Linked DNA regions of Homo sapiens: regions 1, 2, 3, 4 and 6 are each linked to region 5. The links come from fine-mapping of genetic effects on gene expression. A gene starts in region 5. Each other region holds a variant in brackets. All regions are shown on one strand. Distances are from middle to middle. Region 1 holds the start of LOC124902866 (a long non-coding RNA gene). Region 2 has its middle 6.7 kb from the start of CD9. Region 3 overlaps VWF (von Willebrand factor). Region 4 overlaps VWF (von Willebrand factor). Region 5 holds the start of VWF (von Willebrand factor). Region 6 overlaps VWF (von Willebrand factor).

The links. PIP is the estimated chance that this variant, and not a neighbour inherited with it, causes the effect.
Region 1: its variant is fine-mapped to the expression of VWF in whole blood (TOPMed, PIP above 0.99).
Region 2: its variant is fine-mapped to the expression of VWF in whole blood (TOPMed, PIP above 0.99).
Region 3: its variant is fine-mapped to the expression of VWF in whole blood (TOPMed, PIP above 0.99).
Region 4: its variant is fine-mapped to the expression of VWF in whole blood (TOPMed, PIP above 0.99).
Region 6: its variant is fine-mapped to the expression of VWF in whole blood (TOPMed, PIP 0.98).

What each region holds. Positions count from the first base shown.
Region 1 is chr12:6,165,185-6,170,327 of GRCh38, forward strand. It overlaps LOC124902866 (a long non-coding RNA gene), which reads right to left and starts at 4,427. Exons shown (of 2, transcript XR_007063189.1): 1 at 2,964-4,427. It overlaps LOC105369623 (a long non-coding RNA gene), which reads right to left. Exons shown (of 3, transcript XR_931588.3): 3 at 4,650-4,746. RefSeq lists enhancers at 2,627-2,906, 2,639-2,933. The variant G/A (reference allele first, on the strand shown) is at 2,711.
Region 2 is chr12:6,191,155-6,196,297 of GRCh38, forward strand. No RefSeq gene overlaps it. Among named protein-coding and RNA genes, the nearest start is that of CD9, 6.7 kb to the right of the region's middle. RefSeq lists an enhancer at 1-614 and a silencer at 2,942-2,991. The variant T/C (reference allele first, on the strand shown) is at 2,306.
Region 3 is chr12:6,081,089-6,086,088 of GRCh38, forward strand. All of the region lies in intron 6 of VWF (von Willebrand factor), which reads right to left. Among named protein-coding and RNA genes, the nearest start is that of VWF, 41 kb to the right of the region's middle. RefSeq lists enhancers at 1,754-2,500, 2,501-3,245. The variant T/A (reference allele first, on the strand shown) is at 2,265.
Region 4 is chr12:6,052,670-6,057,669 of GRCh38, forward strand. VWF (von Willebrand factor) reads right to left here. Exons shown (of 52, transcript NM_000552.5): 15 at 4,188-4,403; 16 at 1-114. Among named protein-coding and RNA genes, the nearest start is that of SNORA120, 15 kb to the left of the region's middle. The variant G/A (reference allele first, on the strand shown) is at 2,303.
Region 5 is chr12:6,122,075-6,127,216 of GRCh38, forward strand. It overlaps VWF (von Willebrand factor), which reads right to left and starts at 2,596. Exons shown (of 52, transcript NM_000552.5): 1 at 2,347-2,596; 2 at 1,068-1,122. The coding sequence starts at 1,122.
Region 6 is chr12:6,063,242-6,068,241 of GRCh38, forward strand. It overlaps VWF (von Willebrand factor), which reads right to left. Exons shown (of 52, transcript NM_000552.5): 11 at 1,896-2,032; 12 at 1,005-1,143. Among named protein-coding and RNA genes, the nearest start is that of SNORA120, 26 kb to the left of the region's middle. The variant T/G (reference allele first, on the strand shown) is at 2,007.

The DNA of each region.
Region 1 (5,143 bases), 43 kb after region 5:
AGGTGTGAGCTACTGTGCCTGGCCAATACAGTCAATTCTCATTATTCATAGTGGCTGTGTTTTATGGAGTCACTGCAAACACTGAATTAGTGAATGCCAAACCAGTGCTCCTAGGGGAGATACAAGGGGAGGTTCCTGTGAGCCTCTGGTCACATTTTCATCAACAAATCAATGCATAACTTTTTCTTATGTGTGTTTCTGTCTAACGACACCTTATTCAATATATATTGCTGAATAATTCACATTGAACTCATAGCCAACAGCACTATAACTCATGCCTGCACGAAGCTTAACTACTAGACATATTTTCTCCACATGACACATCACAGCTTTCTCTCACTTAGGAACTCTGGACAGCACTTCAGCATGATGCTGGGACCATTTTAAACAGTGGAATCACCAACACGCAGCAGAAAAATGCAAAACACATGGTACCAAGTAGACCTTGAAAAGGACACTTGCTTGTGGTATGAGCTGAAACAAGAAGGCAGACTGTCACCTTGTTCACCCTCTGCTGGGAATGTGCACATCCTGCCAAATTTTTCTCTGCTCTGTGTTCATGGATGGCCATGCAAGCACTGTGAGTATTGATTTTGGCAATACAAGTAAATTGTATGGAGTAGACAAATTTTTATTTTTTTATTTTTATTTTTTTGAGATGGAGTCTTGCTCAGTTGCCCAGGCTGGAGTGCAGCGGTGCTATCTCGGCTCACTGCAAGCTCCACCTCCCATGTTCACACCATTCTCCTGCCTCAGCCTCCCGAGTAGCTGGGACTACAGGCGCCCGCCAACACGCCCGGCTAATTTTTTTTGTATTTTTAGTAGAGACGGGGTTTCACCATGTTAGCCAGGGTAGTCTTGATCTCCTGACCTCGTGATCCACCCACCTCGGCCTCCCAAAGTTCTGGGATTACAGGCATGAGCCACCACACCCGGCCAGAGTAGACAAATCTTTAAATACAGAATGTATGAGTGATGAGGATCAACTGAATATAGAAAGCCCCTAGAATAGTGCCTGCCCAGTAGGAAGCATTCGATAAATCGTGTTACTTTGTAAGCTTTACAGCAATCTGCTGAGATATTGCTATTTCCATTTTACAGATGAGGAAAGTGAGTGTCCAAGAGGTTAAAGACCTGGACCTGGTTCCCATGGTTGGTCAGTGGTGGTGTTGGGACTTGATCCCAGTTTCAGACCTGGTTTAACTATTTTGTGCATTGCCTAGAACACGGGCCCCTTCCATGCTCCCTCTCCACAGGAACACAGGCATGGGTTGTATGTGATACACACGCACAGGCAGGCCCCACACACAAGCAGAATTCCTGTGTTTACTCCTTTCACAAACCTCCTTAACTCTGAGGAGCCTTAGAAACAGAGAGGTGGCCGAGCGTGGTGGCTCACGCCTGTAATCCCAGCACTTTGGGAGGCCGAGGCAGGTGGATCACGAGGTCAGGAAATCAAGACCATCCCAGCTAACACAGTGAAACCCTGTCTCTACTAAAAAATACAAAAAATTGGCCAGGCGTGGTGGCGGGTGCCTGTAGTCCCAGCTACTTGGGAGGCTGAGGCAGGAGAATGGCATGAACTCGGGAGGCGGAGCTTGAAGTGAGCTGAGATCGTGCCACTGCACTCCAGCCTGGGCAATAGAGCGAGACTCCGTCTCAAAAAAAAAAACAAAACAAAGAAAGAAAGAAACAGAGGTTTCCCAGCTTCCTGCCCAGGCCACGGAACTCCTCCCTCCGGCTGCAGAGCTCCCACCTCTTCTCCCCCATTTCTGCCTCAGCATCTCCCACCCCACGCTGGCCACTGAGGCAGCCTGGCCAAAAGGAGCTGATAGCAGGTCCTCTCAGCTTCCTCTGCAGCTCAGCCAGGGGCCACAGCTGGGCCTGTCCAGCCTCACTTGACCAAGAACCGAAGTCCCAGGAGAAAGGAAAGTGAGGCCAGGATGGTGACAGGGTGGAGAAGCTGGGCCCCCAGTGAGCCCCCACAGAGGGTAGGACACAGAGGGACAAGTGTGAGGGGCAGTAACTGCCCGTAGGAATAGTGGCCATGGGAGAGACACCGTGGTGCCCACACCCCAGTAGGTCCTCAGTAAAACTAACATCCACCTGGGCCGCACAGGTAGCCCTGCCACCCTCCAGGGCCCAGGATTCTTTGAGTGAGTTTTAGAACGCCTCTGAAATCTGGGGAGATATGACAGCCCACAGCAATTTGCATTTTTTGCTTTCCTGTTATCAGAGGTGACTAAACTCTGGCCTTCAGGCCAAATCCAGCCAGCAGACTCCTATGTGCAGCTCACTAGCTAAGAATGGTTTTTACATTTTTAAAGTGTTGAGTAACAGGAGAAAATCTGGGGTGAGAGGAAGAGAGATCATATGCCCCACAAAGCCTAGAATATTTACCTGATGAAGAAAATGTTGCCAGCCCCTGACCCAGATGGATTTAGCAGTGGAAGCCCTGGCCAACCAAGTGTGAGTCAGGGTGGCCCGAACACCAGCCCACATCCACCCATCCCCAGTGTAGACATCAGGCATGTTATTCAGCCTCTATAAGGCTCACTTTTCCCTTCTGCAAAGTGGAGGCAATAACAAGAGCTGTGTCCCAGGGCTGTGAGATTACATTAGGTGTCGTCTATGTCAAGCCTTTAGCCCTTGGCATCCTGGGCTACTGTGTGGGCAGAACATGGGTGCCGGTGACGGCAGTGGTGGCGGT[G/A]GAGAGGCGGAGAGGAGGGAAAGGGTCCCTTCCTGACCAGCTGCTGTCTCCATATCTCAGAGAAATGGGGAAACTGAATCATGGGGGTGACTCATCTGAGGTCACCAGCTATAAATAGTCCAAAGACTCATGACAGACTGCAAGCAGGTCCTAGAGTCCTTCCGTCCACAGCCCCTATCTGTGTCTACCTCGCCCACATACACCCTTTCCTAGACTTCTGTCTTGGGCCCCATTCTCACGGGACATTGCTCACCGCGGCCGACTGATTGAACGCCTCTGTTGTCTTTTTTTGCGGGGTGGGGGGGGAGATGGAGTTTCACTCTTGTTGCCCAGGCTGGAGTGCAATGGTGCAATCTTGGCTCACTGTAACCTCCGCCTCCCGGATTCAAGCAATTCTCCTGCCTCAGCCTCCCAAGTAGCTGGAATTACAGGCATGCGCCACTACGCCCGGCTAATTTTTTGTATTTAGTAGAGATGGGGTTTCACCATGTTGGTCAGGCTGGTCTCAAACTCGTGATCTCAGGTGATCCACCCGCCTCGGCCTCCCAAAGTGCTGGGATTACAGGCGTGAGTCACCACGTCCAGCTGCCTCTGTTGTCTTAGATGCCAACAGCTAAAGTTATTTCATATCCCAGGGGCATTTCATTTCAACAGGTACATTCTAAACCCCCAAATATTCACAGATATTCACCTCTAATTGCTTGTCAGTCACAATGACAGGACCAAAGCATCCCTTGATTTTCCCAGGTTCCTCCCAACACTGGAACCAACGTCTGGGGTCAGCTCTCCGAATTCTCACAGTCTCAGATGTTTGGCTCACACTCTGGAGTAGACGGGCAGATGCAAGCACATGGCTTGGCTGGGGAGTTCAGTGTAGCTGTGTTGCAGCTTCTCAGGCCTCCGTTCTCCCGCTTGCCAGCCTGCTTGATAGGGGTAAGGTCCCTCAGAGGGGACATGAGGCCCCTTTGATCCCAGAATAACAAGAGAAAGTCTGGGGGGAGAGGAGGAGGTACTGAGATTCTTGGTACCTATACTTTATGAAATGAAGAAACATCTAAACAGGGTTGCAGAACTTGTGGTCTATTTGATCCTCGTTAGTATAGTGGTGATCATCAAAAAAAAAAAAAAAAGAGCTTGTGATCTATTTGAAATAGCTACATGGCAAAGTTAACGCTTTTAATCCCAAAGCATAATGCAATCTAATGATGCTAACCCACAAAAGCAATTTCAGGATGTATTTGCAAACATTACTTTATCCTGAACTCTTAGGCAAAGTCATGCAGCAGTGAGATGAATGGGAGTTTCATGTTGAACAGTGCATATTGTTTTCCGTTCTGTCGGGGCGTCTCTGTGTCTGATGCAGCATTGCTTTTCAGGGAGATGAAGTCCCTGAAAATGAGACCCAGGTCCCGAGGTGAAGCTCCTTCTCTGGGGTGCTCCGCAGGGATTCCTAGACGGCTGTCCCCCGCTGCTGAGCCACGCTGAGCTGGCTGCTCTCACTGGAATCCTGGAACTGGCTCTTCTCTCACATGGGCACTCCAAGGGCCACCAGCATCTCCTCCTACACAGGTGCAATTTTTTTCTTCTTTTTTCTTTTTCCGTTCCAGGACACTTGTCACCGCCCTGCCCTGTCCTTTCTCCTCTCTTCCTCCCTCTTAGGAGAGTTGCCAGAGTTGCCAGTTTCTTCTTCTTCTTCTTCTTTTTTTTTTTTTTTTTTTTTTTGAGATGGAGTCTCACTGTCACCCAGGCTGGAGGGCAGTGGTGCAATCTCGGCTGACTGCAACCTCCGCCCCCCAGGTTCAAGCAATTCTCCCTCCTCAACCTCCTGAGTAGCTGGGATTTCAGGCATGCACCACCATGCCCGGCTAATTTTTGTATTTTTAGTAGAGATGGGGTTTCACCATGTTGGCCAGGTTGGTCTCGAATGCCTGATCTCAGGTGATCCGCCCGCCTCGGCCTCCCAAAGTGCTGGGATTACAGGTGTGAGCCACTGCGCCCCGCCACCAGTTTCTTCTTTTGGTGCTCAAAAAATGATTCTTCAGAACATCATGGAAAGGGAGCAAAGAAAAGAATAGCTTTACACTAAAGAAACAGGTGACCAAGGTGAACACCAACAGCCATAAGTCACGTTGATAGTGCCCTTGATATCATGGGATGAGAATGACACTTACCTCTGTGGTCTCCCTCTCCAAAACCCAAACGCCAGTCTACTCAAGAGGAAAACATGAGACACATCCCAGTTAAAGGACATTCTGCAAAATCCTGACCAGCACCTCTCAAAATAGTCCAGATCACCAAAAACAAGGGAAGTCTGTGAAACTGTCACAGCCAAGAGGAGCCTACAGAGACATGATGACTAAATGTAATATAGAATCCTGGTGGGATCCTGGGACAGAATGGGGGCAATAGGTTAAAAAAAAAAGAAAGCTGAAT
Region 2 (5,143 bases), 69 kb after region 5:
GCTGCTCTGAGTGCGGGGCCCGCCAAGCCCACGCCCACCTGGAACTCCAGCTGGCCCGCAAGCGCCGCTCACAGCCCCGGTTCCCGCTCGCGCCTCTCCCTCCACACCTCCCTGCAAGCTGAAGGAGCCGGCTCCGGCCTTGGCCAGCCCAGAAAGGGGCTCCCATAGTGCAGCGGCGGGCTGAAGGGCTCCTCAAATGCCGCCAAAGTGGGAGCCCAGGCAGAGGAGGCCCCCAGAGTGAGCGAGGGCTGTGAGGACTGCCAGCACGCTGTCACCTCTCAAGGGGACCAGCGTTCAGCATACGGAGGATCCCGCCAGCCTCTGAGTTCCCTTAGTATTTATTGATCATTCTTGGGTGTTTCTCGGAGAGGGGGATGTGTCAGGGTCATAGGATAATAGTGGAGAGAAGGTCAGCAGATAAACACGTGAACAAAGGTCTCTGCATCATGAACAAGGTAAAGAATTAAGTGCTGTGCTTTAGATATGCATACACATAAACATCTCAATGCCTTACAGAGCAGTATTGCTGCCCGCATGTCCCACCTCCAGCCCTAAGGCGGTTTTCCCCTATCTCAGTAGATGGAATATACAATCGGGTTTTACACCGAGACATTCCATTGCCCACCTTCCTCTTGTCTCAACTGCAGAAAGGTGTTCCTTCCTCTTTTACTAATCCTCCTCAGCACAGACCCTTTACGGGTGTCGGGCTGGGGGACAGTCAGGTCTTTCCCTTCCCACGAGGCCATATTTCAGACTGTCACATGGGGAGAAACCTTGGACAACACCTGGCTTTCCTAGGCAGAGGTCCCTGTGGCCTTCCGCAGTGTTTGTGTCCCTGGGTACTTGAGATTAGGGAGTGGTGATGACTCTTAAGGAGCATGCTGCCTTCAAGCATCTGTTTAACAAAGCACATCTTGCACCGCCCTTAATCCATTTAACCCTGAGTTTGACATTGAGATTAACAGCATCTCAAGGCAGAAGAATTTTTCTTAGTACAGAACAAAATGGAGTCTCCTATGTCTACTTCTTTCTACATAGACACAGTAACAATCTGATCTCTCTTTTCCCCACACCCGCCATCATGCCCAGCTAATCTTTTTTTTTTTAGACGGAGTCTCACTCTCACCAGGCTGGAGTGCAGTGGCGCAGTCTCAGCTCACTGCAACCTCCGCTTCCTGGGTTCAGGCGATTCTCCTGCCTCAGCCTCCTGAGTAGCTGGGATTACAGGCACCTGCCACCACGCTCAGCTAATCTTTTTTTTTTTTTTTTTTCTGAGACGGAGTCTCGCTCTGTCGCCCAGGCTGGAGTGCAGCGGTGTGATCTCAGCTCACTGCAAGCTCTGCCTCCCGGGTTCACGCCATTCTCCTGCCTCAGCCTCCCTAGTAGCTGGGACTACAGGCGCCCGCCACCACGCCTGGCTAATTTTTTGTATTTTTAGTAGAGACAGGGTTTCACTGTGTTAGCCAGGATGATCTCGATCTCCTGACCTCGTGATCCGCCCGCCTCAGCCTCCCACAGTGCTGAGATGATAGGCGTGAGCCACCGCGCCCGGCCGCCCAGCCAACTCTTTTAAACAGATGCATGAAACCTGAAATTATCACCCAGGACAAATCTTGTAAGAGTCTAGTGGATGATTCAGAAAGAAGTTGCTACAGGAGTGTCCTGAGAAAGAGGATCAGAGCAGACTAAGATGACTGAGGGTGCTGGGGAAGGCAGGGGCTGGGCTGGCCTCAGAGATGGTGCAGGCTGCTTGAAGGGCAGAAAGGAGGAAGTGCCAAGAGCTTGGGCTTCGGAAAGAAGAGGTGGGGACCCAGGCATAGAGCTGGGGATGCATGTGGTATTCCAAAAGAGTGAACAGATTTGCAAACAGAGGTTAAGGCGAGAGAGCAGAGGGCCTGTATGATGATCTTACAATTGAGACATCGGCTTTCCATACATTCAATAAATATTGTGCACCTACTGTATGTCAGGCACTGTTCAAAGCCCTTGGGATACATAGAGAACAGAACAGCCATGCGGATTTTGCATTCTAGCTGGAGGAGACAGGTAAATAGCAATGCACATACCAAGGAAACATTCCACTCTGTGAGAAGGTAAATGCTATGGGAGCATTGTTTGGAAGTAGAACAGGGGTAAGGGGAGTTGGGAGATCTTTGAGCAGGAAAGAGTAAAGCTGAGCTTCAGGAGTCTGATGAAAGGATGATATTAAATATTGCTTGTTTAGAATTGCTCCCCGCCTGCCCCCAACCCCCATATACTAAGGAGGACAGACCCTGAGAGCCATGATTTGTTTTGCTGAGCAGGG[T/C]GAGGGGAGGTGGGGACACAAACGGAAAATGCCAAGTTTAGAGCTAAATTGCTCCACACAGACATATGCAGAGGACATCCACAGGGCAGGGGGCTGGCTGAGGCTGGGCTGGGGGGCAGATGATAGGGGTGGCTGCCACAGATTGGACGTTTGAGAAGAGCTATCCAGAGGGATTCTTAGAATGGTTCTCTCTGGCATATGAGAGGGAACCCCTCATCCACCTATCCGTGAAACCTTCATAAAATCCACACTGGACATAGGCAGTTTCCAGGTTGAGTGTGTGTGTGCTTAATGCAAGGAAAAGAAGTGATGGGTGAGAGGAGGGCAGCCCACCCCCAAGGACGCACGCAGCAAGACTCTCTGGGTCCAATGTTGTGTCCATCCTGGGCAGGTGAACAGCAGCGAGGCAGGGCAAGGGTAGAACAGCCGTTTGGGCTGCAGATGAGCTTCCAGGATGCAGCCCCCTTGCGGATGGCAGGGCATCAGGGGGAACAAAAGATCAGGATCCAACCCTGGACTGAAACCAGAAGCTCTGAGGTCTGATCTGTGCTCTGCCACTCAATCACTACAACCCGCCTTAGCCCTGGTGCCTCCCAGCAATGACGTAAGAACAGCTAAGAAACAGGAATCACATTCACTAAGCAGCTGTGAGGCTGGGGGAAGGAGGAGCCCCAGGTGATGGGAGGTGTTGGTGCTGACTGATTAGAGACAGGGAGGGCTGAGGAGAAAGTCAGCTGCGAGCCTAGAAAGCCCTTGGAGATTATGAATTCTGATCTTGATGTTTACATTGAGATTACTATATTTCCTATTGCTTCGGTAACAACCACAAATTTAGTGGCTTAAAGTAACACATATTTACTATTTCACAATTCTAGAGGTCTGAAATCTAAAATGGGTGGGCAGGGCTGTGTTGGATCCCTCTGGCAGCTGCAGGGGAGAATTCGTTTCTTCGCCTTCTCCAGCTTCTAGAGGCTGTCCTTGTTCCCCAACACACAGCTGTGCATCACTGCGACCTCTGCTTCTGTCGTCACATCTCCTTCCCTGGCTTTGACACTTCCACCTGTCTCTTATAAGAACCCTTTGGATTCCACTGGGCCCACTGGGATGGTCCAGGCTATGCCATGGAAAGTAACACATTCACAGTTTTGGGGATTGGAACGTGGGCCTATTTGGAGGGCCGTTAGAAGTGGAAACGGGCCAGGCACGGTGGCGCACGCCTGTAATCCCAGCACTTTGGGAGGCTGAGGTGGGCGGATCACCTGGGGCCAGGAGTTCAAGACCAGCCTGACCAACAGGAGGAAACCCCATCTCTACTAAAAATATAAAAAATATAAAAAATATAAAAAACACGGTGGCTTACGCCTGTAATCCCAGCACTTTGGGAGGCTGAGGTGGGTAGATAACGAATTCAGGAGTTCAAGACCAGCCTGGCCAATATGGTGAAACCCCGTCTCTACTAAAAATACAAAAATTAGCTGGGCATGGTGGTGTGCGCCTGTAGTCCCAGCTACTTGGGAGGCTGAGGCAGAAGAATCACTTGAACCCGGGAGGCAGAGGTTGCAGTGAGCCAAGATCGTGCCACTGCACTCCAGCCTGGGTGACAAAGCGAGACTCCGTCTAAAAAAAAAAAAATTATTAGCCGGGCATGGCAGCGCACACCTGTAATTCAATCTGCTTGGGAGGCTGAGGCAAGAGAGTCTCTTGAGCCCAGGGATGGAGGTTGTAGTGAGCCGAGATTGAGCCACTGCACTCCAGCCTGGGCAACAGAGCGAGACTTGGTCTCAAAAAAAAAAAATCTGCAGGCTCTTGGATATCAGGACTTGCATTTACAGAGAGATGAGTTAAACAGAGAAAATGGTGGAAGGCACAAAAGGGGATGAGTGCTCCAGGAGAGGTCTGAGAGAGAAGGGCAGGGGCCTGAGAAAGCCCCACGCCCAGCCGTCATTCTGCAGATGTTTGCAGAGGGCCTGCTCTGGGCCAGGAAGGGACCGGGAGCTAGGGAGAGCACAGAAATTAATCAAATGCAAGTGCACCCTCGAGGAGCTCACTACCAAGAAGTGGACACATAAAGGAAGATGATGATGACCAGAGAATCACACATGCGAGACTCAAGGTAATCCACGGAGAAAAAGACTGGAGTGCTCCAGGAAGGCTTCATAAGGTGGTGTATTTGAGCTTAGAAAGAGGAACAGGAGAGAAGCTTCTAGAAGTGAAGGAGGTGAATCAAGATGGCCACTGGTGTGGTGGCTGGAAGGGCCTTGGTGGCCTGTGAGAGCGAGGGTCCTACCTGTTGCCTTACAAAGCCATTGCCCACAGCTGGAGGGACCTGGGGCATGGGTGTGACGGCTCATTAGGTCACCTGGCCTCTGCGTGTTCAAATCTTACCACCAGGGGGGGCACAAGAGCCAAAGTGGACCCTGAGCCTGAGCTGGGGTTTCTTTCCCAGAGACAGGACGCCTTGAGGGAAGGGAGGAAAAGCTTTCCCACTCCAGCACCACAAAGCCTGGAAGGCCTGGCTGCTTCCATGTGATTTCTGACTCAGGGGCTTACCCATATTTTCCTCTTCCGGTTAAGGCAAAACATAATTTTTCCATCGCTCACCTTCCTGGTTGCCTGTAGCACTAACTGTCTGTAACAAATGCACTTTGGCCCAGGGGTTTATTGTGACACAGAATGTCAGGAGGAATGAAAGACACCTCCTGATCCAAAATGCTGTGAACCAAAAAGTATCTGAGACAGGTCTCAATCAATTTAGAAAGTTTATTTTGCCAAGGTTACAGATGGGCGCCCAGGAGGCAGATCTGTGCCTTCTGCAAAGATGATTTTGAGGGCTTCAAT
Region 3 (5,000 bases), 41 kb before region 5:
TCCTCCTGCGTTCAGGAAAGGCTGAGGCAAACCTCACCTCCTTCTCCACAGCTGACCTCTCTCCTAGCCCACCTAAAGTACTTTCAGAGACCATCTCATCACCCATGCCACAAATGGGCCCTTCAGAGGCCTGAAGACACCTCCAAAGAACACAGCTCTCCTCAGACAAAGGCTGATACAGACAGCCTTTCAGATTTAGAAACTGAAGCATGGAGTGGGTAAAGAATTTACTAGGCCAGTGGTGTTTTTTGTTTTGTTTTGTTTTGTTTTGAGACAGAGTCTCGCTCTGTCACCAGGCTGGAGTATAGTGGCACGATCTCAGCTCACTGCAACCTCCGACTTCCTGGTTCAAGGGATTCTCCTGCCTCAGCCTCCCAAGTAGCTGGGATTACAGGTACGCGCAACCATGCCCAGCTAATTTTTGTATTTTTAGTACAGACGGAGTTTCACCATGTTGGCCAGGATGGCCTCGATCTCCTGACCTCGTGATCCACCCGCCTTTGCCTCCCAAAGCTCTGGGATTACAGGAGTGAGCCACGGCACCTGGCCTAAGTCAGTGGTTCTTAAGGTGAGGTCCAGGGATCGCCTAGGACTCCCAAGATCCTTTCAGCAGTGCACGAGGTCAAAACTGTTTTTATAATAATACTAAGATGCTATTTGCAATTTTTTCTCTCACTCTTTCACCAGAGTGCAGTGCAGTTTTCCGAGGCTATGAGACATGAGATATCCCAACAGATTTAAATGCAGACGCAGATATGAGAGTCCAGATGATGTATCTGAAGCCAGACAGCAAGGAGATTTGCAAAACTGTAAAACAGTGTCATTTTTCCCCTAAATTATTTTTTGGCTTGGAATTTATCGTTCTTTTTATTTAAAAATATGGTGTTTTTTTTTTTGAAACGCAGTCTCGCTCTGTCGCCCAGGCTGGAGTGCAGTGGCACAATCTCGGCTCACTGCAACCTCTGCCTCTAGGGTTCAAGCAATTCTCTTGCCTCAGCCTCCTGAGTAGCTGATATTACAGGTGCACACCACCACGCCCGGCTAATTTTTGTATTTTTAGTAGAGACTGGGTTCCACCATGTTGGTCAGGCTGGTCTCGAACTCCTGACCTCATGATCTGCCCGCCTAGGCCTCCCAAAGTGCTGGGATTGCAGGCGTGAGCCACCGCGCCTGGCCTAAAAATATGTTCTTTACATTAAATATGATGAGCTTGTTATTTTAAAATGAATCAAAAAATGTTTTAAATTTGTTTTAATATCTAATATGGTAAGTATCAAGAGTTATGACCCACATAAACAAAATCTCTTTAAAGTCCTTCATTATTTTTTAAGAGTATACAGGGGCCCTGCGATTAAACAGTTGGAGAACTGCTATACAATCGTTAAATTTTAAGTTTAGCCGAAAGCTGCCTCCTTACATATTTTAAGTTAGGCCTAAAGGTTTCTCCCTACATAATGAACTGTAACCTAACTGGAGATGTAAACACACTGTAACCTCCTCTTGGGGCAGCCCACTGTTCAAACTACGTTCTAATAAGGCAAATGTTGCGCTGTAGCCAATCCAACTGTTTCTCTACCTCACTTCCAGTTTCTGTAAGTCACTTGTCTTTTTCTGTCCATAAATCTTCTTTGACCATGAGGCAGGCCAGAGTCTCTCTGAGCCTGTTCTGATTCGGGGGCTGCCTGGTTCATGCATCATTCTTTGCTCAAGTAAACCCTGTTAAATTTAATTTGTCTCAGGTTTTTCTTTTAACACTAGTGATGGGGTGCAAACCCTGAGTGCCTGAGTCCATTCCAAACCACAAATTACAGTTTTCCATCCTGCCCTCCCACTCCTGTTTCCTAGCAATCAGATTAGAAGACAGGGTCATACAGTGGCTGTAGCTCAGGTTTTAGAAGCATGGTTGGGCTAGAATCTCAACCCATCACTTTCTTTTTTTAGATGAAGTCTCGCTCTTGTTGCCCAGGCTGGAGTGCAATGGCGTGATCTCAGCTCAATGCAACCTCTGCCTCTCGCAACCCATCACTTTCAAAGCGTGTGACTTTAAGAAAATGATCTTGGCCAAGTGCAGTGGCTCACACCTGTAATCCCAGCACTCTTGTATTTTTAGTAGAGATGGGGTTTTGCCATGTTGGAAGGGTAGTCTCAAACTTCTGACCTCATGATCCACCCACCTCGGCCTCCCAAAGTACTGGGATTACAGGCGTGAGCCACCGCAACCGGCCTGATCCCAGCACTTTTGGAGGCCAAAGTGGGCAGATCAC[T/A]TGAGTCCAGGAGTTTGAGACCAGCAATATGGCAAAACCTTATCTCTACAAAAATATCCAAAATTAGCCAGGCGTGGTGGCACGTGCCTGTAGTCTCAGCTACTAGAGAGGCTGAGGTGGGAGGATCACTTGAGCCTGGGAGGCAGAGGTTGCAGTGAGCCAAGATTGCACCACGGCACTCCAGCCTGGGCAAGAGAGCGAGACTCCGTCGCAAAAAACAAAAAAGAAAAGGAAAATTATCTTGCCTCTCTGCATCCTCATTTCCCTACCTGTGAAAGAGGGGAAAAGTGGAAGAGGTTGAAAGTTGTCCAGGAGCTATTCTCCCCTTCTTAGTCACAGAATCCTCAGTTTTCAATTTCCCACCCCCACGGGGCACAGAGCTGCTAGGAATAAGATTCCATTTCTCAGCCTCCCTTGCAGCTGGGGGCAGCCATATGACTAAGCAATACCCAGTAGGCTATAAGCAGAGGGGTCTTGTGCAACCTCCACCAAGTGTCCTCAAAATAAGGGACTGCTTCTTCCTTAGTCCCTTCTCTTTCTACTGCGGGAATGTAGTTGTGATGCCTGAAGCTTGAGCCGGCGTTTTGGTGCACAAGGTAGAAGCCCCCACTGGGGACAACAGAGAAATAAGACAGAGGGACCCTGGATCCCAACACCATGAGATCTTGCATGGCCCTGGACATCCTACCCCAAACTTCTTTACATGAGAGATAAATAAACTTAGATTGTATAAGTCCTGTCACTCACAGCTGAACCTACTCCTAACTGACACAGACAGCAGTACTTGGACCTACCCTAGATGGTTTCTGCAAAATGAAATCAAATGAGATGACACCAGGAAATCAAATGCTTATAACTATTCTCATTTGCCTGCAATCGGTACTGGCTCCTCAGTTCTCTGCTAAACCATTCTGGCAGGGATGCAAAACAAGGGCCAGCTAATTTGCACACTTCCAGCATCTCCCTGGCTCCAAGGCCCTGCATCAGCTACTCCTGTCTTCTTTCAACTCCTGTCGGCCGTGCCAGGAGCTGCGGGAGAGCAGCTGCCCCAGCCCATCCAGCCATGACCTCACCATGCCTGGGTTGGTGTGCAGGCCCAATTGTGGCCCATCTTAATCACATTTCCAGTTCATTAAAGAAGACCAGGCATCTTCCCTGGAGACATCAGGCGGGTGCAGGGGAGGAGGAGGGAAAGCAAGCACATCTCAGTGGCAGGCAGCAGGAGGAGAGAAAGCAGAGCCAGAGATCTGAAGCTTAGCTATTGTGTTTGCTCCCAAGCAGCTGACAAAGGAGAAGGGAGGGGGACATTCCTAGGACTGAGTGAACAAAGAAAGGAAAGTCTAATACATAGAGTGCAATATTGTTCCACAAGCCCTGATCTTTCTAGCTCTGGGATGGGTGCCCTGCAGCAGCCCCTGGTAGGTATGGAGGCGCCTGGAGTCTGAGCTGCTCCAAAGTAGTGGGTTCAAGAATTCACCCTGCAGCAGGGAATACTTTCTCATTGGTCAGCTGTAATGATGGGTGGGGGAGGGTAGCTGATTCTATTTATAACTTCTGGCCGGCCCAAGATTCCCACCCGCATTCCAAGATTCTGACTCACAAGGACCTGGTGAAACCTGTTGATAGATTTCCACCAAATGGATGGTTTCTGCAGAGCTTGACATTCCTCTCTCTAAGATAGCTGGGGTCCAGTGCTCATGAGAAGTAGGAGACTTGGCCATGGACCTCTCTAAGGGACCCTCCTCACCTTCTCCTTGGGGCTCCTGGAGGCATCTGAGCAGCTTCTAGGGATTAGGGCATGCTGGCTGGATGGACAAGGACGGGGCACCATTCCCTGGTTCCCAGTCTAGGGCCTACCAAGCTCTGGGGATGGAAAGCAGCCCTTTCTGAATCACTCACCCATCCTGCTCCCAGCAAGAAAAAAGCATCAGCTCTGTGACAGGAGCTAATTCCCCTAAGCTGCGCTATCACTTACCATTCACTTGGCGATTTGTCATTTACTAACCCCAGACAGTCTTTCATGGTTTAATTTCTCTTACGTGTCTTGTCCCTTAGTCTACGTTGTATCACGCAAGCCATATGAAACATCTCAGTGAATATGCACTTATGGGCACCATCAGATTCTTGTCCATTCTGTTGCTCACCAGGGAAAAGGAAAAGGGAAAGGAACCCACCTGAGAAATAGTTCGTTAAAGGATTTTGGGAACATTATGTTAGGGAGGCCTTTGAATTGAATGCTTGGGTGCTAGGTCCTTATCCAACTCTCCTCAAGGGCTTGTCAAATGAGCAACATAAAAAGCCAAGTTCCAATGAGAACACATGGACACAGGGAGGGGAACATCACACACCACGGCCTGTGGGCGGGGAGGGGGGGCGCGGGGGGCGGGGGCAAGGAGAGAGCGAGCATTAGGACAAACACCTAATGCATGTGGGGCTTAAAACCTAAATGATGGGTTGATAGGTGCAGCAAACTACCATGGCACATGTATGCCTATGTAACAAACCTGCACGTTCAGCACATGTATCCCAGAACTTAAAGTAAAATTTTAAAAAAAAATTTTTAAAGGCCAAGTTCAAGGGAAATCTGCAAAACCCCATGGTAGCCACTGACCTCTGCCATGAGGCTAGACCCCCAAGGGAACAGTGGCCAAGGTCACCACTGTTTCACCACAACCATTGGCTCCCTGCCCTTCTCCCATCCTGCACTCAGGTGAGCCAGTCTGCTGTAAAGAAAGG
Region 4 (5,000 bases), 69 kb before region 5:
AGCCCTCCAGGCAGGCCTCATTGCATTCCTCATCCGGGTAAGAGAGAGAGCGGCAGGTCAGGTTGCAGGGGGTCCCGCACTGCAGGTACACCTGGCCTTTCGGGCAGTTCAGCTCTAGAAGAGAGAGGAGAAGTAAGGCCTCAGCGGGAATGTTGGACAGCAAGGACTGTGGTTCTAGGACTTGCCACCCCTTGTAGCTGTGACCCCCAATTATTTAATTAAAATTTTTATTGAGATAATTGTAGACTTGCTTGCAATTACAAGAAGTAATGCAGAAAGATCCCATGTACCCTTTACCCAGTTTTCCCCAAGTGACCCCCAATTATATCTGTATGGTCATCAACTTCCTTTCCCACTATGAGCAAATGTGTATTTTTCAGCATGCAGATATGTATTATAATTATGGGGGCACACATTTTCTCCTTTCCTCAACCACAGGGAATGTGCATTAGTCATCTCTGAATTCTCAAAGCCTAGGATGTAGTAGAAATCCTGGCAGGTTTTGAAGCTGTGAATATTAAAAAGTACTGGGAATGACGGGCAAGGGCATACCCCGTGACAACAATGAGTACCATTTATGGAGCACCTACTGAATGCCTTGCTCTTACGTGGGCTCTATGCCTCATGCCGAGTTAGCTCTCATCACCCCCTTTCAAGAAACTTAGGCTGAGTGACTTGTTAGGGGTATACCTCACAGGAAGAAGCAGAGGAAGGATTTGAACTCAGCTCTCTGCAGCCCTAAAGCTCATGCTCATAACCCTTACTCTCTAGAAAGAAAACAGTCCCTTTGAGGACATGCTGGTCCCAAAGAGGAGGGACACTCATGCCTACCACAGCGAAATGGGCTGCACCCATCTGCCCACAGCCCTCACCCTCCCTAGCCTCCCACAGAAAAATACTGCAAGAGACACAAGCCAGAAGGAAGTGTAGCAAAGTGGCAACGCAGCTAAGGGAACGGGCTCTGTATCCCAAATACCTGGGTTCACGCCCAGGTCCACCACTAGCTGGCTGTGTGATCTTGGGCAGTATCCTCACTGGATGGAATAACAGTATCCACCCAGTCTTTGTGAAGGTTGAATGAGCTAACACATTTAGAAGAATGTCTGGCATGTGGAGAATGTTCACTGCTAATAATGTTCACTGATAATAATTATTATTCTTATTGCTAAGGAAACAGCCCCAGCTCAGCGGTCCCAAGAAGGAAGGAGTGTTCCAGAGAAAGGCCTAGGCCTCAGAAGCTCTGGCATTCTGGTGACAAAATTCCTTATGGGCAGGGTAGAGGACAGGGAAGGTGTGGGGAGCATTCTGCCCTTTCAAAATGCCTTCCCTGTGCAGACCAGCTGCTGCCCAAGAAATGAGAACCTCACCCTGGGCATGCTTCTTCTGAGACCATCACAATCCTTCCCCTCTCTGTTCAAATCCATTGCTCCAGCAGAAACCTACTGGCAGGGCATTTCACAGATGTTATAAAAGTAAGCCTTGGCCGTGAGCCTGAACAATGGAGTGGGGAGCCTCTGGAGAGACCCTGCAGCCTCCCGCTCCTACAACCACCCTGAACTTGGTGTTTGAAGGTAGCTGGGAAGGGAGGGCCTCTTTAATCCTATTAGACATTGATTTTTCTCTGCAAGAATGGAAAGGTTGGATTATTGGATGAATACTGAGGGAGTGTAGGTTAAGACAGGATGTGTTAGACAATAAAGATGGAGATGTCTTTCAACCACCTGAGCCTACAATGACAAGGGCACATTTTACCCATTAAAAAGCAGCTAGACTTGAGAACTTTCTTTGTTCTGATAGGCTATCTCTAGGGCTGGCTTGGAGCCTTATTAAATTTCTCCTTTAGCCTTCTTCCCCAAAGAAACAATGCACATCTCAGTTTAGCAGACACTTCTTGTGTATCCACTGCATGCCAGGGGCTATGCTAGGCCCAGGGAGGCAGAGATGGCCAGCCCTGGTCCTTGCCTTCAGAAAGCCTGTGGTCCTGTCTTCCCAAAGGGAGCACAACCAATTTGCAAGAGGAAAAAAAATGTGTGTGCTTCTCATCAATCTCCTCACACCATCCCACAAAGTAGCTACATGGTAAGTCTGTGCTCCCTGAGTGTCTCCAATTGATGTGACCTCTTCTTACGAATAGATTCACTGGTTTAGGGAGCTCTGTTCATTTCTCTGGAAGAGAAAGTGGAAGTGGGTAGAGGGGACAGCTGAGCCTGAGCTCTTCTCCAAGTCAAGAAAAGATTGGGGCAAGAACCCAGGAGACTTACCCAACTGCCTTGGGTACAAAGGGACAGCCCAAGGCCATCTG[G/A]TCAGCCCAGTCTCTTGTCACATAAACCCACAGAGACAGACCCCTCTTGTCCTTAACAGTCTCCAGGGAAAGCTCCTTCCTACCACCCTTTCTACCCTATCGTAATGCCTCAGGAGTCAAGACATTCTTTAACTGAATCTTATCCCCACTACTGAAGCATCAGCCCATTTCCCCTGTTCTGTTCAGTGGAGGTTAAGAATGGCTGTTCATGACAGATTAAAGAATATTTCAGTGGGCCCTTAGCATTCCAGGAGAATGTCCTAAATTAAGAAATCCTGCGGATGCTGCCACATACTGATAATGCATCATTTCTAACACTGGTGGACAAGCAAAGAATATTCACAAGCAGCATCTCATTCACTCCTCATTACTTTCCCCAATTTCTAAATAGCAAATGCTAAGGAAGAAACTGAAGTGCAAAGGGGTTACGTGAAGGGTTCAAGGTCCCATAACTGGTACCTCACGGGAAAGTTGCCAGTAAGGACCCAGACCCAGTTGTCCCAGCCCCTAGCCTGTGGCTCCCCAAGACATCCCAGAGCTGGAGGAATGGGGAGGGCACAACGGCTGCATTATGTGCTCGTCCCTTTCGTCCTTACTGTTGTCTCTGCTCCTCTTTCATATGACATTTCTACAACTCAAAACATGAGTTGGCTCATTGGACCCAAAATAGTAGCACTTCTAGGGTCCCCATGCCTACACTGCTCCTGAAATATAGATGCTAATTCCTTTCACTGTTTCTCATAACTCCTCTTCCAACAGGACCATCTACTTTATATATATATATATGTATACACACACACACACACACACACACACACACACACACAGGGTCTTTCTCTGTTGGCCAGGTCAGAGTGCAGTGGTGCGATCATAACTCACTGCAGCCTTAAATTCCTAGACTCAAGCAATCCTCTTGCCTCAACCTCCCAAGTAGCTGGGACTACACCTACATTTTAATTTCTAAACACATCTACTTTACCCTAAAAAACAGAATATCCACTATGCCTTATTCTTAACAGAATATACTCGTCACTTCTATGCCTACTATGATTCTACCATTGGAAACAAGTCTTCTCTGCCAAGAAAGCAGCTTTTTAAAACCCTAGCCAAGTACACGTCCTCCAGAAAGCCTTCCTTGGTTTTCCCTGCCCTGAATCTACTCATCCTTTCACTTAGTAGGATAGGTATCTAGTAGGGCGGCCATTTCCATCTGTGACTCTAACAGTAAGTTTGGAGTTCCACATCATCACTGTTGCCCGACCACACTGGGCATGCAGCAAATGTCCCCAGAGCAATAACAAAAACAAAAAAGTGAGCACAATAGATACCACCTCTGGTGCCAGGAATCCAACAGTGCAGAGTGAGAATCTAAAGCCAACTGGGGACAGTGATGTAATTCACCTTTAGGTAACTTTATACAACGCCAGAGGTTTTGTCCATCGGTGGTTTGCCTGGAGTTACAAGCAAAGGGTTTGTATGTGAATTTCCCTTGCCTTCATCGGACTCTTAAGGGAGGCGGAGACCCAGTGGGATCTGGGACCCATTCGCTCCACAGCCTGACCTTCTGTGCTGAACGAACACTAGGTGGCAGCGGCCACGGGAAACCCAAGCTTTGCAGGGACCCCCACGTTCTAGGCCTCCAGGTAGGAGGAGCCAACCTGTCTTCCTGGAACAGGCCCGAATCATCAGCCGGTCCCCACCGCCTGTCCTGCTGGGAGGTGGAAGGGAAAAGTGGGTGCAAATGAACCGTCCTCCCCACCCGTGTTTGTCACAATGCCCTACGCCCTCTTTCCACAGGAAACAACGCAGAGAAAGGGCTTCGAAAAGCACACGTGGACGGATTTGGGGGGCGGCCCGGAGGGCTGCGGGCAGGGAGGGCACGCACCACAGCGGCCTGGCTCGCGCCACGCGACGCGCACGCCTCTCCCCGCGCAGGCCGCGGCATAGCTGGCCAGGGCGCCGCACAGGCACTCGCGGCCGTCCGAGCAGGAGCACACGTCGTAGCGGCAGTTCCGCAGGTAGGGCAGCGGGCTGACGGCACGATGGCAGGCCTCGAATGTGGGGGACGTCAGGACCGCGCACGCCTCCTCGGAGAACCTGGCTGTGGGGCGAGAGGAGCGAGCCTGGGATGTGGTGGGGAGGAGTGGGGGCCACGCCCTCCCGGTCAACACTCCCCTGGAAATAGCCCAGTGCTGCTAATAGAGGGCTGCAAGGTCACGCAGAGAAATCTGCAAATGCCACCCCCACCCCCAAGTCCATTTATCTTACAATCATCTAACGCTGAGTTTGTAAGCTGCTGCTGCAGTAGACTGGGAAGGTCGAAGGACGGGGACTATGGAATTTTTTTTTTTTTTTTTTGGAGAGACACGGTCTTGCTCTGTCGCCCGGGCTGGAGTGCAGAAATGCGATCTTGGCTCACTGCGGCCTTGCCTTCCTGGGTTCATGCAACCGTCCCACGTAGCTCCCAAGTAGTTGGGATTACAGGCGCGCCCCACCACGCCCGGCAAATTTATTATTATTATTATTATTATTATTATTATTATTATTATTATTATTTTAATAGAAATGGGGGCTCCCTACGTTGCCCAGACTGGTCTCGAACTCCTGCCCTCAAGCGATCCTCCCGCCTCGGTAGACTTTTTTTTTTTTTTTCTTTCCCGGGGGTTGGCCTGTGGCGGGCGCCCAATAAAGGGACTTT
Region 5 (5,142 bases):
TTATAAATTGGTGACCAACTTGTGCAAACTACCTATAACCTCTGTTTATTTCTCAATAGATTGTAAACAATTTGTCGTGCTAGTGTATATACTTCCAATATGCGGTTTTTAGTGGCTGCATTATATTTTGCATCTGAATGTCTATAGTATAGCCCTCTATTGTTAGGTTTCTAGCATTTTTCCATGTTTTAATATTATAGATAGATTGCAGTGAGCATCTTTGTACATAAATCTACTAGCATGTCTTGGGCATGTTAAATTTTAAACAGATCAGACTGTGTGCCTGACACATAGACTCTCTGAAGTGTGAACTCCTCCGGCGTCACAGGCTAACTCCTTCACTGACTATGGGTGTGTGTGTGTCGGCAGGTGGGGAAATACAGCAGTAAATCTCTAAGTGTTCTGGGTTCCCCGGCAAAAGACCCACCTAGTAGGAAGATGCAGAGAGTGTGACAAATGTGTATTTTTTTTCCCAGACTCACCTGTGGGCAGTAGCTGGATGCTGCTGACCTGAGAGATCTAAGTGGAAAGCGCCCAAGGTCAAAAGTCCCCTCCCGCCATTTGCAGACCCAGAATCTTAGCAAGGGAAGGGCAGCAGTATGATGCAGTGCAGTGGAAAGGGTGTTGGCCTGGAACCCAGGAAGACTGACCTCTGATTTTGGCTCTAGGAGACTTTGGAGCAGTCATTTCTCCTCTCTGACCCTCAGTCTCTTCATTGTACCATGGGAGGTTCAACAAGGTGACCTCCACAATCTTATCGAAAACTAATAATCCATCCAAGTCTTGGATTCCTTCCTCCTCATCCTGTGCCCCCATAATATAGGACAGTTCTGTGCCACCTTTATGCTTCTTAATTCCCCAACAGGAGATGGCATTTGCAGGCACCTGGTCTCTGGAATACAAGTCAAGGGTGGGAACTCCGCAGAACCTTCACAGGAGGCAACCAACAGCCTAAGTTAGGGCTGGGCACACAGGTGAGCTCCAGACACACCTGCTGATTCCCGGAAAGGTGTCACTCCAGATGGCCCTGGGGCAGGAATGAGAAATGGAGGCCCTTTTGTACCTACCTGGCAAAATGAGGGCCAGAGCAAGCAGCACCCCGGCAAATCTGGCAGGAATCATCTGCAAAGAAGCAAGAGACGTGAGCTGGTCATTGCTGCCCAGGTAGGCGGCTGCTGGTGTGGCGACTATCAGGGCATGCAGTAGCAAAAACATTTCTTTAAAGCAGGAGAAAAGATTGATCCTCGTGACCCCCTTTTCCCCTTTGAACATGGACTTCTGGCCCCCGAAAAAACCCCTGGCCAGTGCCAGGCCCAAGGGTAACAATCGCTGTGAGCTGGGACCTGTGGGCACCTTTCCACAGACAGCAGTCCCAGGCCCAAGACAGGAGGAAAACGCTGCCTTCCCTCCAGGCCCGCTGGGCCTCACATCCCTGCCTCCTGAAGCAGCTGGGAGCTAACACACACCTCATTCCTTCCTGCCTCTGCATCCAAACTGGCGAGTAGGAACCGTCTTACACTTGTGTGCCCACCACAGCAGCCCAGACATAGAGAATGCTCAGGAACCACCAACTTGACGGTTTGCTTGTTGGCCCCTGACTCTGTACCACAAGTGCCTTCACAAGAGCAAAGGCTGTCTCCCTTGCCTCCAACCCCAGCACCTGGCAAGATGCTTAGCACCCAGGAGATGCCCAGCAAATGTTTGCTGAGTTCATCTGAAAAAATGGACAGGAGTCCAGCGGCCCTGGATGCAGGCAGACTTCCCCACTGTGTGACCCCCAAGAGAGGGACAATTCATCCTGGCTGGCAGAGCGTACCCCAAGTCACTTAGAGCCCCTGCTGTAGCCCCTCTCCTCGGGAAAAGTTGTTAAATGAAGTGCAGAATCTGCTGCCTGAGATTCACTGGGGGTGACTCCCTTCCTACCTAAGGTCCCATCCAGCCAAAGGTGAAATCAAGCCAATCTGTGATACATCTGTGGAAGGAACACTGAGATGTCAGATACTGCCAGGTCTCGGTCTCCAAGCAGGTGTCCCCTCCCAGTCCTAACACGCAGGTACATTCAGCTGCTCCCAGGTTCTCAGAGGTGAGGGCAAACTTCATTCCAACTCATTTGAGTGAAGTACTATCAAACAGTAAAACCCACTGCATGAAGAAAAGCAGCCCCAGGACCCTCAGAGGCAAGTGGAGGAGGGAGTATTAGGATCATCCCTGGCTGAATTGAATTGCCCCTCCAAACAAAGCCCTTCTAGTCCAGCGACAGAGAACTCCAGCTCCCCAGGAGCAGGGATCAGTCAGTCCTGCATCTTCCTCCCACAACTGAGCCAGCTCTCCTTCCAAAGGCCATACCTTCCCCTGCAAATGAGGGCTGCGGCTATCTCCAAGGTCCCTGGGAAACTCAGCTGCTGGACAATGGTGCCGCCCACCCTAGGCCATGCTCTCAGCTGCTGCAAAGGCTCAATCAGGTCTGCTACAGCTCCGGACTGTCTTGCTGTTATGTAGCCCAGGGGCTGTGGAGTCCCCACTGCTGGGGGAGATAAAGCCCAAGCTGTGACATCCACCAACCACCCTCCCTTTCCCACCACAATAGCTGTGAGCTGCCACAACAGGGGATTGGCCTCCTTTTAATTACCAAAAGGAAACAATGAAAGGAAATGGTATTAGAAGTACCTCCAAGCTGATAAAGCTTTGTAGAGTTTGGAGGGAGACCTCCTGGCAGCTGCCTTAATTAACTGCCTTGCCCTCCCCAAACACCCCCTATCCCTACACCCCCACACTTGATCCCTGGTCTTCCTAGAGTGCCCCACCTGTGTGGGATAACCAGGAATGCTGGTTGTTTCAGGGCAAGCTGATACAGGCCAGGGGGAATCACAGTAGAACAACACAGCTTCCTGATCCAGCTTCCAGGGCTGGACTCCAGGGAAGTTGAGAAAAACACCTCAACCTGAGCCAATTTTGCTGCTGTGTTTGGAGGAAGGGGAGTACTAACACTTCCTATGCACCCCAGGTATGAAGGATCCGGTCCTGGCCCTGACAAAAACAGTCCATTTGGATCCTGGCCAGGGTTGAATGGATCGGCTAAAGATGAAGGTCTTGGCCACAAGCCTAAGCCTTTGTAAAATGGTGAAGGTGGGGAGTGATGGTTTGAGTCTAATACTTCTACTGTTGCTACATTCTAATAATTCTAATTCTCAAGGACATTTCCACCCACTTCTGGTACCCTGATCTTACACACACACACACACACACACACACACACACACACACACAATTCTTCTTCCCAGCCTCCCATTCCCAAAAGCCTAATTCTCAACACCATCTGCTAAACTAATTCCTACTAAAATAAGTAACTGATGCAATGGGCAGCGGTGGGGGGAAGATGACTCTCGTGCTGGGATTCCAGGCACTGAGACAAGCACCCTGAGGCATGTCTGGGTATGGAAGACCTCCTCACTGCTTCTCCATGATACCTCCTGCCCTAAGACTTTGAGAAACCACTAGGTTCCAACCTCCTCCCTTCCCACATACCTCGCACTCTGCTACTCCCTTTACCGCCCCAGGAGAGGAAGATGCACACTCCCAAGGAAGAAAAATGGCACCAGAGGCAGAATCAGCATGAGACAGTAGAAAAGGCCATTGGGGGGCCGGGCACGGTGGTTCACGCCTGTAATCCCAGCACTTTGGGAGGCCGAGGTGGGCGGATCACGAGGTCAAGGGATCAAGACCATCCTGGCTAACATAGTGAAACCCCGTCTCTACTAAAAACACAAAAAATTAGCCAGGCGTGGTGGCGGGCGCCTGTAGTCCCAGCTACTCGGGAGGCTGAGGCAGGAGAATGGCGTGAACCCGGGAGGCGGAGCTTGCAGTGAGCTGAGATCGAGCCACTGCACTCCAGCCTGGGTGACAGAGCAAGACTCCGTCTCAAGAAAAAAAAGAAAAGAAAAGAAAAGGCCATCGGGATTTCCACTTCCAGCTCTTATTTAAAAAAACTAAATAACTAATCTGAAAACCCTTTCATTACAAAATATCTTTAAATGCTGTGCTAAATACAACAAATGTTCTTTAAATCCACAGTTGATCTGGGAGGAAAGTAAGGAATATCTTAAAGGGTCAATGAGGAAGAGGAGCCTAAATGAGCATGAGGCAGGGTAGGCCCATGGGTGGCCTAGCGTAGGCCAGTCTGGGAACCCTCCAGACTGGAGGCCGCACATTACAAGAATGGGCAGTGCAGCTACGGGCCTGACCCAGAGGGAGAACTAGAACGGAGATCCCTGCAAAAGCTGAAAGTTTGAAGGGAAACATCTTCCAAACAGTGGACCAGGAAAAAAATCCATCCCCCAACCTAGAAGATAAGGAAGTTTGCCTGTCTCCACTTGTTTTGGGGTGGGGTGGCGGGGGGAATTAAGTCTTTTTTTAGAATATTCTTTTCTTTCTTTTTTTTTTTTTGAGATGGAGTCTCGCACTGTCCGCTGGGCTGGAGTGCAGTGATGCAATCATGGCTCACTGCAACCTCTGCCTCCCGGCTTCAAGCAATTCTCCTGCCTCAGCCTCCCAAGTAGCTGGGATTACATGCACACACCACTACACCCAGCTAATTTTTTGTATTTTTAGTAGAGATGGGGTTCCACTATGTTAGCCAGGCTGGTCTCAAACTCCTGACCTCGTGATCTGCCCACCTCGGTCTCCCAAAGTGCTGGGATTACAGGCGTGAGCCACCACGCCCAGTCTAGAATTTTCATCCTTTGCACTCATGCAAATAAAGCTCTCTTGACGATGAATTCAAAATCACAAATTTTTCAACACTTGAGAAAACAATCTACCATGAGCAAGAATTAAATCCCTAAGAATTTCAGATAATAAAATCATCAGAGAAAGATAAAAAGAAAAAAATGAGTGTTTAAAATTATAATAGAGGCTAGGCACGGTGGTTCATGTCTATAATCCTGGCACTTTGGGAGGCTGAGATGGGATAATCGCTTGAGACCAGGAGTTCAAGACCAGCCTGGGCAACACAGCAAGACCCTGTCTTTACAAAGAATAAACTTTTTTCAAGGCAGGGCACGGTGGCTCACGGTGGGTGGATCACAAGGTCAACAGATCAAGACCATCCTGGCCAATATGGTGAAACCCCATCTCTACTAAAAA
Region 6 (5,000 bases), 59 kb before region 5:
GAGCGCAAATAGGGTCCCCCAGGAAGAAGCCTCTGCACCCCCCGCTATGACCTGCCATTCCCCCTACTGCCACAGGAGGGAGGCAGAGGCTCCTGCATCCTGGGCTGTAGGCAGGTGCCCTGGAGCAGAGGGGGATCTCTTTAGCATTGACACCACGACATCTGAATGTGCCTGGGACACTCTGCCACTGCACACCACCTCATGTCTGAGCGATGCTGTGTACGACACTGAATACAGCAATTGTTGCTTCTGTGGGAAGGTGGCGACAGATAGGAGCACACCCCTTGCCCTGGGGGAACAAACATATCTTATAAGGAGACACACAGCATAACACCCATGGACGTGCTGGGTACCCACTAGCCCAAGTTCATCCGCTGTGTGCAATGCTAGGATAATGGGCGACAAAGTGGCCAGCAGTTGTGGAGAAGAAGGAAGAGTCTGAGAGCCACTTTGAGTGTGAAGTTTGGGAGCTTTACCATGCAAAAGCAGGTTTGCTTTGACCGGCACAGTGCAACCCAGGTGAAGATACTGGACAGGTAGGTTTTTTGCTACCTCTAGACAGGCCAGAGGGTCACCTGGCCTCGCCCCAAGTGGCATCCTCTGGTGTGACATCACCAGCCACCCCCGATCTCTCAGCATCAGCCTCTGCCCCTGTCCCACCCCAGAGCAAACCAGAACCACCTGCCCAAGACTCAACTCGCCCCTTTGGTTCAAGCCAAATAAAAATCCTCTCGGTTCCCTTTTCCCATCTACACTCTGTCCCAGGTCTAGAGCAACCTCTTCATCTATAGGCTTCCTTCTCTAGTCTTCCTCCTCCAGGAAGCCTTCCTTTCTTGGAGGGATGCATGCCAAGCACCCCACCCTGCCCTCCAAAAATAACTCTCCATCACATTCCCATGGAAGAGGCATGCAGGTCCTTAAGGACAGTGGCCAGGGTTGAGAAGGAGGGTGCTAAGGGATGGGCTGTGCCAGCCCCAGGCCTGATGGAGCAGGACGAAGCATACCTTTCAGGAGGGGGAGCTGGACGTCCTGGCCATCCATGGCAACTCCTGCCCCATGCTTCAGTTTCACAAGGCTGTTGTGCAGGCCAGGCAGCCGGACGGTGACGGAGCGGGTGCACACAGCGTCGCGGTCATCAGCACACTGCCAAGAGGGAACACAGGGTGACTTTGCTGCACCCCCTGCCTATCCAGCTCCCCAGCCCAGGACCCTCTTAATCAGAGAAAGGCCTCAACCCGAGAGCCTCTGGCCTTCTCATAACCTACAACTCCATTCTCCCAGAATACTCCATGTGAATGGGGCCCCCTAGAGTTGTGCAGCAAGAAGGCTTGCTAAGTGCATCCTTGCACACGCCTTCTCCCAGCCTGGCCCAGTCTCTTATAAAGAACCATGGGCCTCTGCTTCATCGTGTTCCTTGGACCTACTGTTCCAAAGAGAATCAAAGACTTTGATCCTCAAGGAAAGCCCTGTGCATTCTCTTCGTCCTCATCTTTGCTTCCATCCCTACAGAAAGGAAGCCACACATGTACCACAGAGTTCAGAAGAGAAGACCAGCCCTCTTTGCCCCCACCCCAGCCATCCCCAGCTCCAAACATCAGAGGGTTAGTTATGGGGGCAACAGGCTAGACCCAAGCAGGATGCGTCCACTGGGTGGGGAGCTGAGCCAGCCCTGAGGAGGCATTATTGTCAGGGCAGGATGCCTTCCGCCAGCATCTAGGGAGAGAGGGGATGGGCTGGGTTTCTGGATGAATGAGGAGCTAACTGAAGTCTGGAAGAGACCTCCCTCATGCACAGAAAGCAATGCCCCACGCCTTCCAGGGACTGCCCATTCAGCCTAGCAGCTATGCAGCACCTTGGGCTACCACCCGACCAGCAGCCGGGCTGGCAAAGCTCACCTGGACAGTCTCAATGACAATGGAGAAGGAGTGGTCCTGGCAATCCCGGGCCAGCAGGTACTGGCAGATCCCACTGAAGGTGAAGTATCTGTTGTCAAAGCTCTTGAAGTG[T/G]GATTGACCTGTGACAAGGCACTCCCCTGGAGAGACACAGAGGAAGGGAGAAGAATGGGAGGTGAGGGCACTTCCCCTGGGGTGGCCAAGGTGGAATGCATATGCAAGCAGGGTGCCCTTCCCCAAAACTGCATGGACGTCCTTTGCCCAAACCAGTCTAAAAACAAGTTCTACGAGAAAATTCGGTTCCTGCTCCTAAAACTGCAAGATGTCAGAGCTGGGTCATTCAGGTCAAGGCCTCATTTTACAGATGGGGCAACTAAGGAAGGTGACAGAGCCACACTCAGTCAGTGGTGGAACCACGCAGGAACCCACGCTCCTGCTTCCAGGCTCCCTGCAGCCTCCCCTCCTCCCTCACAGCTCACTGCCATGTCCCACGCTACCTGCTGGCATCAGGGCCACACCAGCCTCAGACTGGTGCCAGCGGAATGCCTGGCCAGGGGGAGGCTGCCCAATAGCACAGGGTTCTCTGAACCTGAGTGTGGAGAGGCTCTGGGAAACAGTGTCACCCCTGGAGAGTCCCTGGAGGCCAGGGGGCAGAGTAGGCAGCCCAGAGGCAGGATGAGGTGGGAGGGTGAGGCAGGACAGTCTTGGAGCTCAGCAGTGAAAATGGGGACTCCATCCTCCTCACCAGCAGAGGGGCAACTCTAAGGCCATTGCTTTCTGCGTCCTCAGAGGGGCAAGCCCACGCTGTGACTCCAGCCAGGGCCAATGGGGAACCAGGAGGCCATCTGCCCATGATCTCACCACCACCCAGGCAGTGCTGACCTCGGCAGCGCCAGCTTCCCAGCCCAGGCTGACACATCTGTGGGTGGGGACTAGGACTCCCCTTCATCACCCTGCAACCCAAAGCCCTCAGCTTGTCCCCACCCTAATTCCCACACCATCTCCCCCACGCCCCAGCCTAGGCCCCATACTTGTGGCCCAATGCACCTCCAAACTGAGATCACACATCCTGGAAGGTGTCCTGGCAGGGGGAGGCCTCTGCCAATGTCTCCAGTGATTCTCCATCAACCTGCCTGGCTTGAGGCAATCCCATCTTCAGGGCCAAACATGGACCCATCAAAGCTGAAAAGGGCATCTGGATCCCTTCCCAACCTGCCCTATATATTTCCTCCACCTGCTCTCATCTTTGCTATCTACTCTACAGAAAAAGAAATATATATAGAGAGAGACACCATTGCCATTTGGTGAAGGAGGAAGACTTTTCCCACCCAGTCACTCTACGGTGCATGTGTGAGTTCCTTTCTCTAAGGATCAAAGCAAAGATGAGGACACATAGAGTGCACAGGGCTTCCCCTGAGACCCTCCAAACAGCGGAAGCTTGGCTGTCTACAGCGCTACCTCAGCCTCCACCTGAAGTTCCCCCTTTGGGGAACAGATGCTAGACCAACGTTGGAAAGACAAATGTAAGAGGGTCCTACAGACCATCCTATGTGGGCCCAGCTCCAGGGGCTAATGCTAGCCCTGTCACACAGCCAAGGGGTCCCCAAAAGGCACAGAGAGATTCTAGCTTGTCAAGGACAAGCTCCACAGGCCCTCACTGTCTGGCACTTCATGCTCGCATGTGCCCTGACAGGCCCAGCCAGGGGCCAGGCTAGACTGTGCAGTACTGGACCCAGGTGTGGGCCTGCCTTTGAGATGTGTATGAAGGCAGGATTAAGGATGAGGTGCCTCAGGGATGTACACATCCCTCTGCCTGGTCCCCAGGACAGTGGATCCCTTCCAGGACAGCATGGGTCAGGAGGGCACATCCAGCCCAGAGGAAATTAGGAGAAAGTGGAAAGGCCCCAGATCACTCCCATCAGCATGGCCCACCTTCTCCGCTGCCCCCTCTAGAAGAGCGGGAGTGAGGAGTGACTGTTCGTGGAGGACAGAGCAGGCCACAAGATAGGGGCCAGGATCGTCCCAGCCCATTCTGGATGTGCTGTAATTTCAAGTCCAGTGAGGTCTCAGGAAAGCCTTTTTGAACTGACCATTTTTCAGAAATTATCATCATTCTACAAACACAGTAATATGGTCATTTGTGTCAAATGTCTTGACCCCAGGGCAGTAAAAATGGGTGGGAATTCTTCCCCCTGCCTTTCTGTGTTTTCTCAGAGCACTCTTATCTAAGCAAGAAAATGGACTTCTGTCTTCTTTAACAATACCCAGGAAAAGAAGGGTCAACGAGAAATGTGCAAATATTCGAAAGGAAAACTTTCAGGGCCAGCATCTAATCGTCTCATCTGATTTCCTTCTCTGACCTTCACTGACTTGTGTTCCCAAGTTTCTCGCAAATCAGAAGTCTAAATATTATATGAGCTTATCTCCTCGGTACAACTGAGCAACAGAGCCACAAACACAGGAAAATGGGTGGGTGAGCTGCCAGGTAGCCGTTAGCCACGGGAGCTAGAACGTCAGCCAGAACTATGGGCCATGCGAACACGCTCACCCATCCTCCACCCAGGATGGGACACTAGGATATTCCCCATCAGTCAGCAACAGGCAGCTCCTGACGAACAGCGGGCCCACCACTAGATGGAGATGGGCACTGGAAGTTTGGGGAATGAATGAAAGGCAGGTGATTCCTAAAACTGCATTTAAAAAAAAAAGAGCATCCAGGCCGGGCCGTCATGGCTCATGCCTATAATCCCAGCACTTTGGGAGGCTGAGACAGGCGGAGCACCCAAGGTCAGGAGTTCGAGACCAGCCTGGCCAACATGGTGAAACCCCGTCTCTACTAAAAATACAAAAAATTAGCCGGGTGTGGTGGCAGGTGCCTGTAATCCCAGCTACTCGGGAGGCTGAGGCAGGAGAATTGCTTGAACCCAGGAGGCAGAGGTTGCAGTGAGCTGAGATCACGCCACTGCACCCCAGCCTGGGCGACTGAGTGAAACTCTGTCTCAAAAAAAAAAAAAAAAAAAAATCCAGAAGTTAAAGCAGATCCATTTCTATGTGAATAAAGATCCTGCCTCATGAAAAAAAACAAAACGGAACCTCTCACCTAATGGA